Homo sapiens: one gene and its partner. The protein of the gene in region 2 interacts with the protein of the main gene of each other region in a biochemical or structural test. Each region holds a gene or a part of one and is shown on either strand. Other genes may lie near its edges.

Region 1 (7,861 bases), on a different chromosome or scaffold from region 2:
AGCTCTCTGGATCTGAGACTTTTGAGGTATGCACCCTTAGATAAGTGAAAATCCAAGCCTTAATTTCCCTATCTGCAAAATGAGGATGATAACACTATTGTCACGGATGTCTTATGAGGAGTAAGTGACAGAGTATAGGAAGAGCTTTTGACACTACATACAAATTAATTATGAAATTCTATTACGCTAACGTACAAAAGGTTGAATAAACAAAAGTGTTGATCCTCCCAGGGAGTTTTCACAGATGTTTTATGCTGGCTGAGCCTGAAGTCCAGGAATAGGTCAGGGGGAAAGGAATTTTTTGAGGGAGGAGGACTTTGAGGCCTTAAGAATCCCATGTCCTTGGATGATCTGAAGAAAGGAAGAAGTATAGGGTATATCCACAAAGCTGGAGTCCTAGTGGAATTACTAGCTACCAATTCCTGAGCATTTTCTATGTGTTAGGGACTGTACTAAGTACTCTACATACATCATTCTTGAGTCAGAAATTATTCCTTCATAAAGCAAAAGAAGCCCATAGCAGTTACATAAATACGTGCTCCCACCCCACCGCCAAATAGTTCATAACATCATCAATCCAATGATGTTATTTTTTTGGATGGAGAAATTGAGACCCAAAAGGGTTATATACTGACACCGTACAGCCAGTGAGGAAGAGACTGGGACTGGAATCCAGATCCCTTCACTCTCAAGGCAGAAATCCCTACATGGCAAAAACCCAGGGGCCACCATTCATTATGAAGTCTGTGTAAACTTCATAGCCAATGCCATCTACATGGACTACACTGTCAGTGGCAGCCCCTGAAGTTCTGCCACTTGGCCACCCTGGCTCAGCTCCATGATGAGCTGCTCACCCCCCTCAAAAAGGAAGTTCTCGATGGAACTGGAGACTATGATTCTAAGTGAAGTAACTCAGGAATGGAAAACCAAACATTGTATGTTCTCACTCATAAGTGAGAGCTAAGCTATGAGGATGCAAAGGCATAAGAATGACACAATGGACTTTGGGGACTTGGGGGAAAGGTGGGAGGTGGATGAGGGATGAAAGACTACACATTGGGTTCAGTGTATACTCTGGGTGATGGGTGCACCAAATTCTCACAAATCACCGTTAAAGAACTTACTCACGAAACCAAATACCACCTGTTCCCCAAAAATCTATGGAAATAAAATAAAAAAAGGAAGTTCTTGAGACCAGAACCTCAGGTCCCTGGAGACTGAACACTGCCCTCCTTGCCAACTATTCCATCCAGTCTCCTCCAAGGTGACTGACTCCATCCCTTCACCATCCGTCTATGCTTGTACTCCTTCAACACATCTCTCGGGGCACCCTCTCTGCACCAGGCATCAGGCTCAGCTCTGGGGACACCTGGCTGCCCTTGAGGGAGCCGCGTGCTGAGAAACCACCCGAACCTGGTGTGATTGTAACTCAAGCTTCCCCAGCAGCTTTGTCAGCAGCACCAAGAGGCTGCCCTTAACGAGCCCCAAGGAGAAAGAGGTGGGGACCTCCGCAAAGGGATGACTACAGGGGCCTGGTTGGAGTAGAAGATCTGGCCCTCAAGCGGGAGGGAAGGGTGACTGGGAGGGCATGCAGTCAGGACACAGTGGAGAAGAGGACGAATCCTGGGATGCCACATCACCTGGTCCAACTGAGGACACTCAGGCTCAGTGTGTCCTGGGTGGATCAGGACTAACGCCTGGGAATCTGATCTCAGGTCCTGGGCTTCTTCATTCTCCCAAACGAATCCCAAACCCGGAGTGTTTGAGTGTTATGAGAGCTCTCCTTTGAGGTTGAAGGAAGCAAATTAAAGCCCCCTCTCCCCTTTTTTTGGTACCATAGGTAGGGAAGGTAGAAAATGAATGGCACCTGCCCCTCCAAGTGGGGCAGGGCTGGAATTACACACTTTCGTGGTACACTCAGGTGAATTTTGGGGTTCTGGGGCTTCAATGTGGGTGGGATCTAGTTGTGTAGGAGGGGAGCATGAGTATGAAAACCAGGAACCCTAGATTCTAATGAAAGCTTTACCACTAACTCTCTGGTGACCTTGGTCCGCCACCTTACTGGGCCTCAGTTTCCCCATCTGTAAAATGAGAAGGTTGAATAAGTTCCCAGGATTCGTCTGGCCCTGATCTTCTAAGCCCTGTGATCCTTGATAAGGTAAGCCTCCCAAGGCTCTGACCCGGGCAATCTCCGGTTTTGCAGGAGCCTGGGCCTCAACCAGAAACAAGCAGCATGCTGGGGGAGGGGAGCGCGCTAAGCTTGTATTCTAGGGGAGGGTGGGACGCGGGAGGCTAAAGCTAAAGGGTCGGTGGAGGCGAAGCAATGGGAAGGCTGGGAGCCGCGCTTTAGAGGCCAGAAGGCTAGCGGCGATTTCCAATCTCCCTCAGGGGCTTCAGGCTCCGGAGAGGCGATGCAGCCCAGAGCCGCGCACCAGCCTCCGCCGGCCGCAGAGGCTCAGACCCCAAACCACTATCCCGATTCCTCCCCGGAACCGCGCACGGGCTTCGTGGGGAGTGGCTGCCGCTCCCTCCCGGCTACCAAGCGACAAGCCCCCTCCTCTGCATGGGGGACCCCTCCCCCAGCATGCGGGCGCCCAGAGCCCCACGGGGGCGTGGCGGGGGCGGGCGCCGGCTCCTCGGCCGGGAGGGCTGGAGAAGGTGTCAGTTGCGGGGCCGCCCGAAGGAGGGACCCGCGCCCTCCACCTTCCGGCTCCGCACACAAAGGCGCAGACGGAGGCGCCGCACTTACCGGCCAGAGCGGGCTCCGGGCGCCGGCGAGCAGGCGGGCAGGCTGGCGGGAGGATGCGCGCGCGAGTGTGCGTGTGTCTGCGTGTGTCCCTGCTTGTGTCTGTGCCAGTGTGTATGCGACGGGGGCCGCGCCGAGCTCTGTGCGTCTGCGTGTGCGGGGGCGTCCGTCCTTCGGTGCCTCCGTCCTTCGGTCCGTCCGCCTGGCGCTCCGTCCCGCGCTCCGTGCGCGCTCCCTCGCCCGACCGCCTCACCAAATGCGCTTCAGCTGCAGAGTCGCTGGCGCAGCCGCCGGGTGGGTTTGGCACCCCCCAGCCCCGGCTCCGCCCCGCCCCCGGGCGGGCTTCCGCCGCTCGCCGGGAATTGCGCAGGGCTGGCGGGGCGGGGGACCGGGAGAGCGGCCTGCTCCCGGGGCACGAAGGGGGCCGGATCACAGACCCTTAACCCCTGACCTCATCTCAGGTGCCTCCCTCTCCCGAGCAACTCTGCGCGGAGTCTCCGCAGTCGTCGCCCCCATGCCAAGGTTGCTTGGACAAGGAGGGCGGAGGAGTGGGAGCAGCGCATCCATTTCATTCATGATTTTTTCTCCTCTTGGGAGCCCCGGGTCGGGCCGCGCGGCTACGGCAACTGCCAGAGGGACCCCGGCAGGGCCGTGCGCGCTGAACCTGGGACGGGACAGACAGGCAGACAGAAGGAGTAGGGGCCAGCGAGACAAAGGGGGCAGAGTTGGGGGAGGGAGTCGGCTCATTGGGGGCATGCCGTGGCGCTCCCCGCATGTTGCCAACACCTGCGCAAGTGGAGCGGCCCCATACTAGGGCGCATGCAATACCAGGTGCCGAGGACTCGTTCTAGGACGCTGAGGAGGCGTCCTTTTTCCCAGTTCTCCCTGTTCAGCCTCTGGGGAGCTAGAGCGAGTGGACAGCCCCTCCCTCCACTGAGTCTTGCCCTCCTGACGTGCGGCGCGGGGCACGCACCTGTTTTGGTTTTCTCGTGGGCACCAGGGGCCCGGACGAGCAGGGAGCTGCCCATGTGCCCCACAATCCTGCCACAATCTTCCGTATTCTCCAGGCTGCTAGTGCGCTGGCCAGAGGTTTCCGGCATTCCATCCCCATGGGGGCTTGAGGCTGTGGGCTGCACACAGGGCAGGGATCCTAAACTCCATTTTTTACACGGGGAATCAGAGGCGAGCCACCACGTAGCTACCACCCTGGTTCCAGCCACCATCCACCCCCGCCCCCCGGGATTTCCATTATAGTCTCTTTACTGGTCTCCCAGCTTCCACCCTTGGCCCCCTGCAGCTGATTCTCTACACAGCAGTCAAGGCGATCCTTTAAAATTTAAGTCAGAGCACGTCGTTCCTTTACTGGAAATCCTACACTAGCACTCCATTTCATCCAAGGGAAAGTTAAAGGCCCCTCATGACCTGCAAAGCCCTTCAGGAACTGGCTCCTTTTTAGCTCTTTAACCTCTCTTTCTACCACCCTCCCCCTTCTCCCACGCTCCAGTCACATTGGCCTTTTTAATGCATCATCGGCGTGGCAGCCCTGTGGCCTCAGGACCTTTGCACTGCTGGTCTGTCTGCCTGGAAACTCTTCCCTCTGATAGTCACACGGCTACTCCTTTACCTCTTCAAAGTGTCACTCCCCCCACCCCCCCGCCCCCGAGACGGAGTCTTGCTCTGTCGTCCAGGCTGGAGTGCAGTGGCTCCATCTCAGCTCACTGCAACCCCTGCCTCCTGGGTTCAAGCGATTCTCCTGTCTCAGCCTTCCGAGTAGCTGGGACTACAGGCGCCCGCCACCATGCCCAGCTAATTTTTGTATTTTTAGTTGAGACGGGGTTTCGCCATGTTGGCCGGGCTGGTCTCGAACTCCTGACCTCATGATCCGCCCGTCTTGGCCTCCCAAAGTGCTGGGATTACAGGCGTGAGCCACCCTGCCCAGGCTCAATGTGTCGCTTCTAAGATAATTGCTGTAACTATCCTGTTTAAAGTTGCTGGCCCTCCCTCCTCATTTTCTCCATGCAGCTATGACTTTTATTTCTGTTCCCTGCCCCTGAGGCTCACTGGCTTCATTGCCAGCTCCCATCTCAATCCCCTCCCATCCCAATCCTTCAGCCTCACCTCACTAATCTGTTTTTTAAACAAACCCTGTGTTTTCCTGTCTCTAGGCCTTTGTTCACGTTGTCCCTGTTCAGTCTGGAATGCCATCCCTCCCATGTCTTGACTAATTTTTAAGGTCCAGCTTAAATACCACCTCCTTCTCCCCACATTTCCAGGGACACTCAGCTCTCATTACTTTCTGTCTGCTGTGATAGTGGTTCCTTCTCTTTTTCCCCAGGTGCACTATGAACTCCTGGAAAGTAGGGCGGGGTGTCTTCCCTTTCCCCAGTTCCCAGCACAGAAGGGCCCATCAGCACATGTTTGTGGATCAACGGCACTGATTGGGAGGCCCTAGGCTGGGCCTCAATTGGTCTTTTTTTTTTTTTTTTCCCCTAGGAAAAGACCTAGAGACCTAGACCCAATTAGGTCCCTGTGTTGCCCTCAAGGAGTTTCCTGTGGGGTGGGGGAGGATTATATATTGGGTAAAAAGGCCATACTGCTTGGGTTGTGTGGAAGTGTGAGTAGACATTTCAGCCTGTACGCCAGGACCTGCTCCCTACCCCCCGAGAGCATCATCACCATGGTTCGGCATGAGGCTGATTTCTCCAGGCTGCATCAGTTGAACAATAGCAGCTACTATACATGGGCACTTTAGTATGTGCCAGGTAGTGTTTTGTGTTTTCTCAAGGCACTGCTCTATTGAATCTTCATGACATCTGTGGGAGGTAGGCCTTTTGACATCCCCAATTTCAGTAGAGGAAGCAGAAGGAATAAGTGAGTTACTTAAGGTCACTTAAGAGGTGTGTGTTTCAAATTCAGATCTAGCCAGTTCCATAGCACGTGGTCACAGAAGCAGGGATGCCTTAACATGAAAGCCCTTTGGGCTGATGGAAGGAAGGGGAGAAAGTAGGGCTTAGAGAGCTTCAGTGGCATCAGCCTGGCCCAGATTCTTGATGTCCCCAGCTCAGGGGTCACAGAGTCATGGTACTCCAGGTGCACTGGGGCCTCACAGGTTCCTGTCAGTGCTGCCTCTGATGTCCTGTGGTGGAGGCTAATGGCTGCCCTTGTAAAGGCAACTTCGGAAAGCTAGCGGTGCCTCGCAAACATTCCTAGCTGTGTGCTCTGGGTTCAAAGCCCAGCCCCAGCTGTCACATGTGGATAATAATGCCCATCTTAAAGGGCTATGGGAAGGAAGAAGTATGACAATACCTCTAGAAAGTAGTAAGGCAACAGCAACAACAAAGATCTTTCTTCTTTTGTTTCTTGTATTGAGTTTCTGTCAGATAGGGATATACCTAAACTAGTCTCCTCACCCTGTTTCCACCCTATACACCCTCTTATTGAAGAGTGTTACCCCAGGGTGCAGTTCAGGAAGGAAATCTAGCATTTTCTGAGGGCTTTAAAAATAAGCTATCCACGTTGCTTCCCTGCATTCTCTCGTTTGATCTGCCAAAACACCTTAGGAGGGACTGCTATTACCAAGGAGGAATAGGAGGCACAGAAAGGTCCAGGGGCTTTCCCAAGGCCACAGAGCTCACTAAACGAGATTCTAGCTTATGTCTGACTCTGTTCACTTAACCAGCACCCTGCCAACACACGGAAAGTGACTGCTTTGATTTCCTTTCTCTTCTCTGATGAGGAAGAGTCCTGTGAGGCCCATGGCAACGAAATAGTTGTGAGGTTGTGACGACTTAGGAGTCTTCTTGAGCCGTTTTGTGTAACTCATTTACCCTTTCATGATAGAGGGAAGAAGAGGGATTTAAGAAAGAGGAGATGGGGAGAAAAAGATGGTCTGAGAAACCAGAGAGTGTTTTACTGGTGGTTCTTGGTGGACTGTTAGAGATTAGAGTCCATCTTTCTTGCTTTTGGCCCACTTGCAATTCACTGTCTTGGTAATGAAATGCTTTGCTTCAGTGAAAATGTCCCCCTATCCAGATTTTTATTTATGTATTTATTTACTTACTTATAACTTACCCCAATCCACAAAGGATTTGAAGTAGCTTACCAAAGGGGCAGGATCCATAAAACAATGTTAAAATATCAATGAGGATAAAGAATCAGGACCAAAGAAAATGTAAATAAACGTTGAGTGACATGACCAAAGCTCAATAATCACAGCTGTTTTTTTATTGAGTTTATTCTTGTGTGCAAAGGAATTTGTGTACATTATTTCATTTAATCCTTAAAAGAGCCATGTGAGGTAAGTACTATTATTATCTTCATTTTGAAGCATAGGGAGGCATTTCTCTCAGGCTGGGAGACATGAAATATGATGCCCTAAGTCACGTAGCTGGTAAGTGGTAGAGGCAGTATTTGAATCCAGGTTGACAGTGGAACCGATACCCTTAACCACTGTCCTATCCTGCCTCTCGAGGACAAAAGATTACAAACGTACAGACCACAGGGGCCTCTAGAGTACTGTGCTTGAACCTCAAATTTGGTTCTGATCATTTGGGATGCCAAAAAGAAACAATCTGTTACATAGAACTAATGCCTTTATATCCTTCAAGTTTTTGCTCCACTGTCATTTTCTCATTGAGGCCTCCCCTGACCTCTCTACCTAATACGTCAGAGCCTGCCTTCTCCCGTTCCCTTCAGGAGTCCCAATCTCTCCTTTTCTTTTATAATGACACATTTTACCTTCTAATGTACTGGATAATTTCTTTATAAACTATGTTATAATATCTATCTCATATTTTATATATTTCTTATGACATATATTCTATATTAATAAATTTATTTACGAGCTATAGATTAGGTAGTTTATCTATTTTGTATGTTCACCCTTTAATATCTGTTAAATATCTGTTTTTTTCCCACTGGAATACAAGGTCCACAGGGCATCTGCATCCGTTAGGCTCATTGATATATCTTAAGTGTCCAGGACAATGCCTGGTACATAGTAGGTACTCAATAAATTTTTGTTGAATGCTGAAATAAGTATCTCAGAGGGGAAGAAACAGACTAGTATATCTGAAGTAGCAAAGTATGTCACTTTTTTTTTTTGCAAGCTTATAC
Region 2 (7,023 bases):
TTTGGTCTAGAAGAGCTATTCTCAAAACGTGGTCCAGGAATCCCCTATCTGAGGGAGGATCTGTAAGGTCAAACCATTTTAATTGTTCTTTTCACTCTTACTCTCTCAAGAGGGCACAATGGTGTTTTCCAGAGGCTCCATGATGTGTAATATCACAACAGACTGAATACAGAAACGGATATAAGAATCCAGGTGTCTATTAAGCCAGACATTAAATAAGATTTGCAAAAATATAAAACAATGCCATACTTCTCACTAAAATTTGTTATGGAAAATAGTCATTTTTCGTAAAAACATATTTATGGTAACATGTAATGGGTTTATTATTGTTATTTTAAAATGAATTTGGGCCGGGTGCAGTGGCTCACGCCTGTAATCCCAGCACTTTGGGAGGATGAGGCAGGCGGATCACTTGAGGCCAGGAGTTCTAGAACAACCTGGCCAACATGCCAAAACCCCGTCTCTACTGAAAATACAAAAATTAGCCGGGCATGGTAGCACATGCCTGTAATCCCAGCTACTCTGGAGACTGAGGTGGGAGAACTGCTTGAAGCCAGGAGGCAGCTGCAGTGAGCCAAGATCGTGACACTGCACTCCAGCCTGGGCGACAGGGCGATACTGTCTCGAGAGAAAATAAAAAATAAAAATAACTATTTACATCTTCTCAGTTTTAATTTCCAACAGAGTATCACGAGATATACCCAATATAATTAAAAGCTCTTTGGGGTTCTCAATAATTTTTTTTGTATTTTTTGTATTTTACCTTGTTTTTCCCCCGACTGGGTCTCACTCTGTTGCCCAGGCTGGAGTGCAGTGGTGCGATCTTGGCTCACTGCAACCCCCGTCTCCCAGGTTCAAGCAATTCTCCTGCCTCAGCCTCCTCAGTAGCTGGGATTACAGGTGTGTGCCACCACACCCAGCAAATTTTTGTATTTTTAGTAGAGCTGGTGTTTCACCATGTTGCCTAGGCTGGTCTCGAACTCCTGACCTCAAGTGATCTGCCAACCTCAGCCTCCCAAAGTGCTGGGATTACAGACATGAGCCACCATGCCCAGCTTGTATTTTACTTTTTTAATTAACACAGAATGGTACATATTTATGGGAATCAATAATTTTTTAAGAGGGTAAGTGGATCTGAGACCAAAAAATTTGAGAACTGCTGATCTACAGCAGTTAAGTCTCAAAGAAAAATCTAAGGCTGAAGGTCAATAAATGACTTCAGAATAACAGATGATAATCTGAATAAAGTTTTGTTTGTTTGTTTGTTTTTGTGTGTGTGTGTTTTTTTAAGATGGAGTCTTGCTCTGTCGCCCAGGCTATAGTGCAGTGGCACAACCTCAGCTCACTGCAACCTCCACCTCCCGGGAAGTGATTCTCCTGCCTCAGCCTCCAAGTAGCTGGGACTACAGGTGCGTGCCACCACACCTAGCTAAATTTTTGTATTTTTAGTAGAGATGGGGTTTTACCATGTTGGCCAGGATGGTCTCAATCTCCTGACCTCGTGATCCGCCTGCCTCGGCCTCCCAAAGTGCTGGGATTACAGGCGTGAGCCACCATGCCCGGCCCTGAATAAAGTTTTTTAAAAAAGGTTTTTTTTTGGCTGGGTTTTTTCCAGCACTTTGGGAGGCCATGGTGGGTGGATTACCTGAAGTCAGGAGTTCGAGACCAGCCTGGCTAACATGGCAAAACCTCGTCTCTACTAAAAATAGAAAAATTAGCCAGGTGTGGTGGCGGGCACCTGTAGTCCCAGCTACTCAGGAGGCTGAGGCAGAAGAATCACCTGAACACAGGAGGAGGAGGTTGCAATGAGCTGAGATCGCGCCAGCCTGTGCGACAGAGCAAGATTCCATCTCAAAAAAAAAAAAAAAAATTAGCAGGGCATGGTGGTGTGAGCCTGTAGTCCCAGCTACTCGGACGGGTGAGGTGGGAGGATCACTTGAGTCCAGAAGTTGAGGCTGCAGTGAGCTATGATCATGTCACTGCACTCCAGCCTGGGCAACAAAGCAAGACCCCATCTCTGAAGAAAAAAAAAGAGATTCAAGAAGCATACACACAGGCCTCTTTGGATCCTGATTTAAACAAAGCATAGATTTTTAAAGCAAAAAAATTTTAAAAAGAAAACATTTGGCCAGGTGCGGTGGCTCACGCCTGTAATCCCTGCACTTTGGGAGGCTGAGGCGGGCAGATCACTTGAGGTCAGGAGTTCGAGACCAGCCTGGCCAACATGGCAAAACCTCCTCTCTACTAAAAATACAAAAATTAGCCGGGCGTGGTGGCGGACACCTGTAATCCCTCAGCTACTGGGGAGGCTGAGGCAGGAGAATTGCTTAAACCCGGGAGGTGGAGGTGGAGGTTGCAGTGAGCCAAGATTTCGCCACTGCACTCCAGCTTGGGTGACAGAGCAAGACTCCATCTCAAAAAATAAAATAAAAAAAAAATAAAAAATAAAAGAAACATTTATGGGACAGTCATGAAAAATGTGAACACTGACCAGATATTTGATAAGTTAAAGGAGGATGGCATTGTCATTATCTTTACAAGTTCTTGTCTTTTAGACATACCTTACTGAAATATTTATAGATAAAACATCATGTCTGGGATTTGCTTAAAATAATCAGGGTGACATATAGAAGAAGAAAAATTGGTCACAAACTGATATTTGTTGGAGCTGGGTAATGGAATGAATACCTGGAATTCACTGTACTTAGTCTACTTTTATATGTTTGAAATTTTCCATTAAGAAGTTTTAGGCTGGGCGTGGTGGCTCATGCCTGTAATCCTAGCACTTTGGGAGGCCAAAGCAGGCAGATTGCCTGAGCTGAGGAGTTCAAGACCAGCCTGGGCAACATGGTGAAACCTTGTCTCTACTAAAATGTAAAAAATTAGCTGGGTGTGGTGGCGTGTGCCTGTAATCCCAGCTACTCAGGAGACTGAGACAGGAGAATGGCTTGAACCCGGGAGGTGGAGGTTGCAGTGAAGCAAGATTGAGCCATTGCACTCCAGTCTGGGCAACAGAGCAAGACTCCATCTCAAAAATAAATAAATAAATAAATAAATAAAAAGTTTTAAACTTTTTATTTAAACTTTTTATTCCTGGAACATCTGAAATCTCTAATTTAAACTTTATTACCCAGAAATGATATCATCTCAGAAATGAGAGACTCTCACATTCAAATCTCTAGCCTTAGCATATTGTCCCATGTCATGCACTTGTTCTCTTGAACTTAAAGTGACTTTCAGCTCAGATCCCTCCATTTTCTCCCAATCTCTCAATTCCCTCTGCCACTCTAAGTCACAACAATCAACTGTCCATATGAACTGCAATTGACTTTTCTGGATATGCAGGCTGATGAGTACTGCTGGGAGTGGAAGTAAAACTGTAGATGGATTTGCTACAAAGTCACAGACCACAACAGGCATAATCTTTTCATTTATCAATCTTTTATCTGACCTTACTCAGCTTTTCATACTATTCTTCTTAGAAATTGCCCAAAAGCACTCATCATTTCTCCTCAGCTCCCTCTACTCAACCTCACAAACTACCACCTAGTACTCTGAAAAGAGCAACATAGCTTTGGATGTATTTGTACTTAATGTTTCTTTACAGATAATTTGTTATATTAAAACAGTTCTAACTGTAAAAGAAAATTCATTAACAAAGAGATTTTAGCAAAACCTTTCTAGAAAACAGCAAAGTTACATTTTAAAACTTACTGTTCACAGCAATCCATTCATTGAGATCCTCTCCCTCAGGCAACATAACAGCTTGTCTCAGATTCCCACTTCCTAGAGTTGCTTCTGCATGTTTTAAGAGTTCATACTGATGAGATCCTTCAGGGATATTCTTCTTTGGTTTGAATGTTTTAGAAGAGCGGCTGCTGCTGTAAGATTAAAAGTGCAAGTATATGAATTTTTAAGACTGGAAGTAGAACAGGTAGAACAACATAATTTTAGGTATATAAAGTAGCCTGTAAAAATAAAATAAAAAATACTCTCTGGGCCAGGCATGGTGGCTCATGCCTGTAATCCCAGCACTTTGGGATCACCTGAGGTCAGGAGTTCAAGACCAGCCTGACCAACATGGTGAAACCACACGTCTACTAAAAATACAAAAATTAGCCAAGCATGATGGCGCACACCTGTAGTCCCAGCTACTTGGGAGGCTGAGGCAGAAGAATGGCTTGAACCTGGGAGGCAGAGGTTGCAGTAAGCTGAAATCGCATCACTGCACTCCAGCCCAGGTGACAGAGCAAGACTCAGTCTCAAAAAAAACAAAAACACTCTCTGAAAAATGCCAAGATAGGAAGATGATGATCACAATACAAGAATGCTTTTTTTCCCCTGCCTGTAAAAGCAAGATTAGCAGCACAATTCCACAAATAAGGCAATTTTACTATGCCCTCTGAAGAAGTCTGGTACAGAGAAACATCCTGGATTTTAGTTCTTGATCTGACACTAACTGTGTCTTCTTGAGAAACTGAACCTTCTTTTGGCCTCAATTTCGGTTTTTTTTTTTTTTTTTTTTTTGAGATGTAGTCTTACTCTGTCACCCAGGCTGGAATGTAGTGGCACAATCTCGGCTCACTGCAATCTCCACCTCCTGGGTTCAAGCGATTCTCCTGCCTCAGCCTCTCGAGTAGCTGGGATTATAGGCATGCACCACCACACCCAGCTAATTTTTTTTTTTTTTAGTAGAGATGGGATTTTGCCATGTTTGCCAGGCTGGTGTCGAACTCCTGACCTCAAGTGATACACCCGCCTCAGCCTCCCAAAGTGCTATAGAAAATGATGGGGCCATGCCGGGCGCGGTGGCTCACGCCTGTAATCCCAGCACTTTGGGAGGCCGAGACGGGTGGATCACGAGGTCAGGAGATCGAGACCATCCTGGCTAACACGGTGAAACCCCGTCTCTACTAAAAATACAAAAATTAGCCGGGCGTGGTGGAGGGCGCCTGTAGTCCCAGCTACACGGGAGGCTGAGGCAGGAGAATGGGGTGAACCCGGGAGGCGGAGCTTGCAGTGAGTCGAGATCGCACCACTGCACTCCAGCCTGGGCGACAGAGCGAAACTCCGTCTCAAAAAAAAAAAAAAAAAAAAAGAAAATGATGGGGCCATGGCTAGGTGCGGTGGCTCACACCTGTAATCCCAGCACTTTGGGAGGCCGAGGCAGTGGATCACGAGGTCAAGAGATTGAGACTATCCTGCCCAACATGGTGAAACCCCGTCTCCACTAAAAAACAAGTACAAAAATTAGCTGGGCGTGGTGGCACACGCCTGTAGTCCCAGCTACTCGGGAAGCTGAGGCAGGAGAATGGCTTGAACCCAGGAGGCGGAGGTTGCAGTGAGCCAAGCTTGCACCACTGCACTCCAGCTTGGCAACAGAGTGAGACTCCGTCTCAAAAAAAAAAAAAAAAGAAAAGAAAAGAAAAAAGAAAATGGTGGAGCCAAGTGCAGTCGCTCACACCTCTAATCCCAGCCATTTGAGAGACCAAGGCAGGAGGATTTCTTGAGCCCAGGAGTTTGAGACCAGCCAGGACAACATAGTAAGGCGGAATGGGGGGTGGGGAAGATAAAAAGAAAATGGCGCAGGGAGGTTTAGTTCAAAAATCCAGTATTCTATATCAAAATATTTGAGACGCCTTGAAAGCAAACCACAGTAAAAGAAACACTAACATCTTTAAGTTTATAATAGGGAAAATAAATGAGACAGGCACAACTCGTTATTGAGGAAAAAATGTTTTTATTCCTATCTCACACCATCCATAAAGTCTTCCTGCACAAAACTCAGAAACCTCAAAGAAAAAGTGGACAGATTTCAAATAGTATCAATTAAAACTTTCATAACAGAGCAAAAAGACAAGTAACCAAATAAAAGTACTTGTAACATATATTACAAAGGATGAACTGGATAATAGAGGGCTTCTGTAACTCGTTAAGAATATAAGGAATCCTTTAGAAAAATAGGCTAAGGAGATGAATAGGCAATTCAGAAGTATGACAATCAATGAGCATGAGAAAAACTGTTCAATTAAAGTAAGATTTATTTTTTCCCTAATCTGAATGTCAAAAGTTTAAATGATTACATTAAATGTGGACTAGGGTAGGGGCCCCCAACCCCAAGGACACAGACTGGAGCCCACAGAAGGAGATGAGCAGTGAGCAAGCAGCAAAGCTTCATCTGTATTTACAGCTGCTCCCCATTGCTGGCATTACCACCTGAGCTCCACCTCTTGTCATATCAGCAGAGGCATTAGGTTCTCACAGGAGCGTGAACACTACTGTGAACTGTGCATGCAAGGGATCTAAATTGCATGTGCCTTATGAGAATCTAAAGCCTGATGATCTGTCACTCTCTCCCATTACCCCCAGATGGGATTGTCTAGTTGCTCAGAGCTCCCACTGATTATACATTATGATGAGTGGTAGAATTATTTCATTATATATTCCAATGTCATAATAGAAATAAAGTGCACAATCAATGTAATGCATTTGAATCATCCAGAAACCATCTCCCCAACCAGATCTGTGGAAAAATTGTCTTCCACAAAACTGGTCCCTGGTGCCAAAAAGGTTAGGGACCACTGGACTAGGGTACAGAGAAACTAGTATTTTAATACACTACTGGTGAAAGTATAAAGTGTAACATTTTGGGAGGGCAATATGGTAGTATCTATTAATACTGAAAAGCTCCTCAAGCCATCCATTCTACTTCTAAATATCTCCTCTAGATATGGATAAGAATTTTTTTCCAAGATTGTTTTTAATAGGGAGAAACCTAGAAGCAATCCTCAAGTTTATCAGTAGAGGATTGAATTAAAGTATGGTACATCCATATCATGGAATATTGTATAGAAGTTAAGAAAACCAGACAGAGTACACGTATTCACAGGGAAAGATCTAATACATGGTTAAACATAATACACAACCAAACGTACAGCAGGAGCCCATTTTGTAAATACATAGAAAATATCAAAAACTAAACTCATCAAAACTGGTGATTACTTCTAGGAAGAGGAATGGAAT

What was found. The genes of interacting proteins can lie anywhere in the genome.
Region 1: the proteins of MOB1A (region 2) and PTPN5 form a complex in vitro, tested with the Homo sapiens proteins (one study listed by BioGRID).

Annotation. Positions count from the first base shown.
Region 1 is NC_000011.10:18,788,776-18,796,636, forward strand, and holds the start of PTPN5 (tyrosine-protein phosphatase non-receptor type 5), read right to left. Parts: upstream 3,024-7,861; 5' UTR 2,750-3,023; intron 1-2,749. UniProt on the Homo sapiens protein: May regulate the activity of several effector molecules involved in synaptic plasticity and neuronal cell survival, including MAPKs, Src family kinases and NMDA receptors.
Region 2 is NC_000002.12:74,168,872-74,175,894, forward strand, and holds part of MOB1A (MOB kinase activator 1A), read right to left. Parts: intron 3,882-7,023; coding exon 3,715-3,881; intron 1-3,714. UniProt on the Homo sapiens protein: Activator of LATS1/2 in the Hippo signaling pathway which plays a pivotal role in organ size control and tumor suppression by restricting proliferation and promoting apoptosis.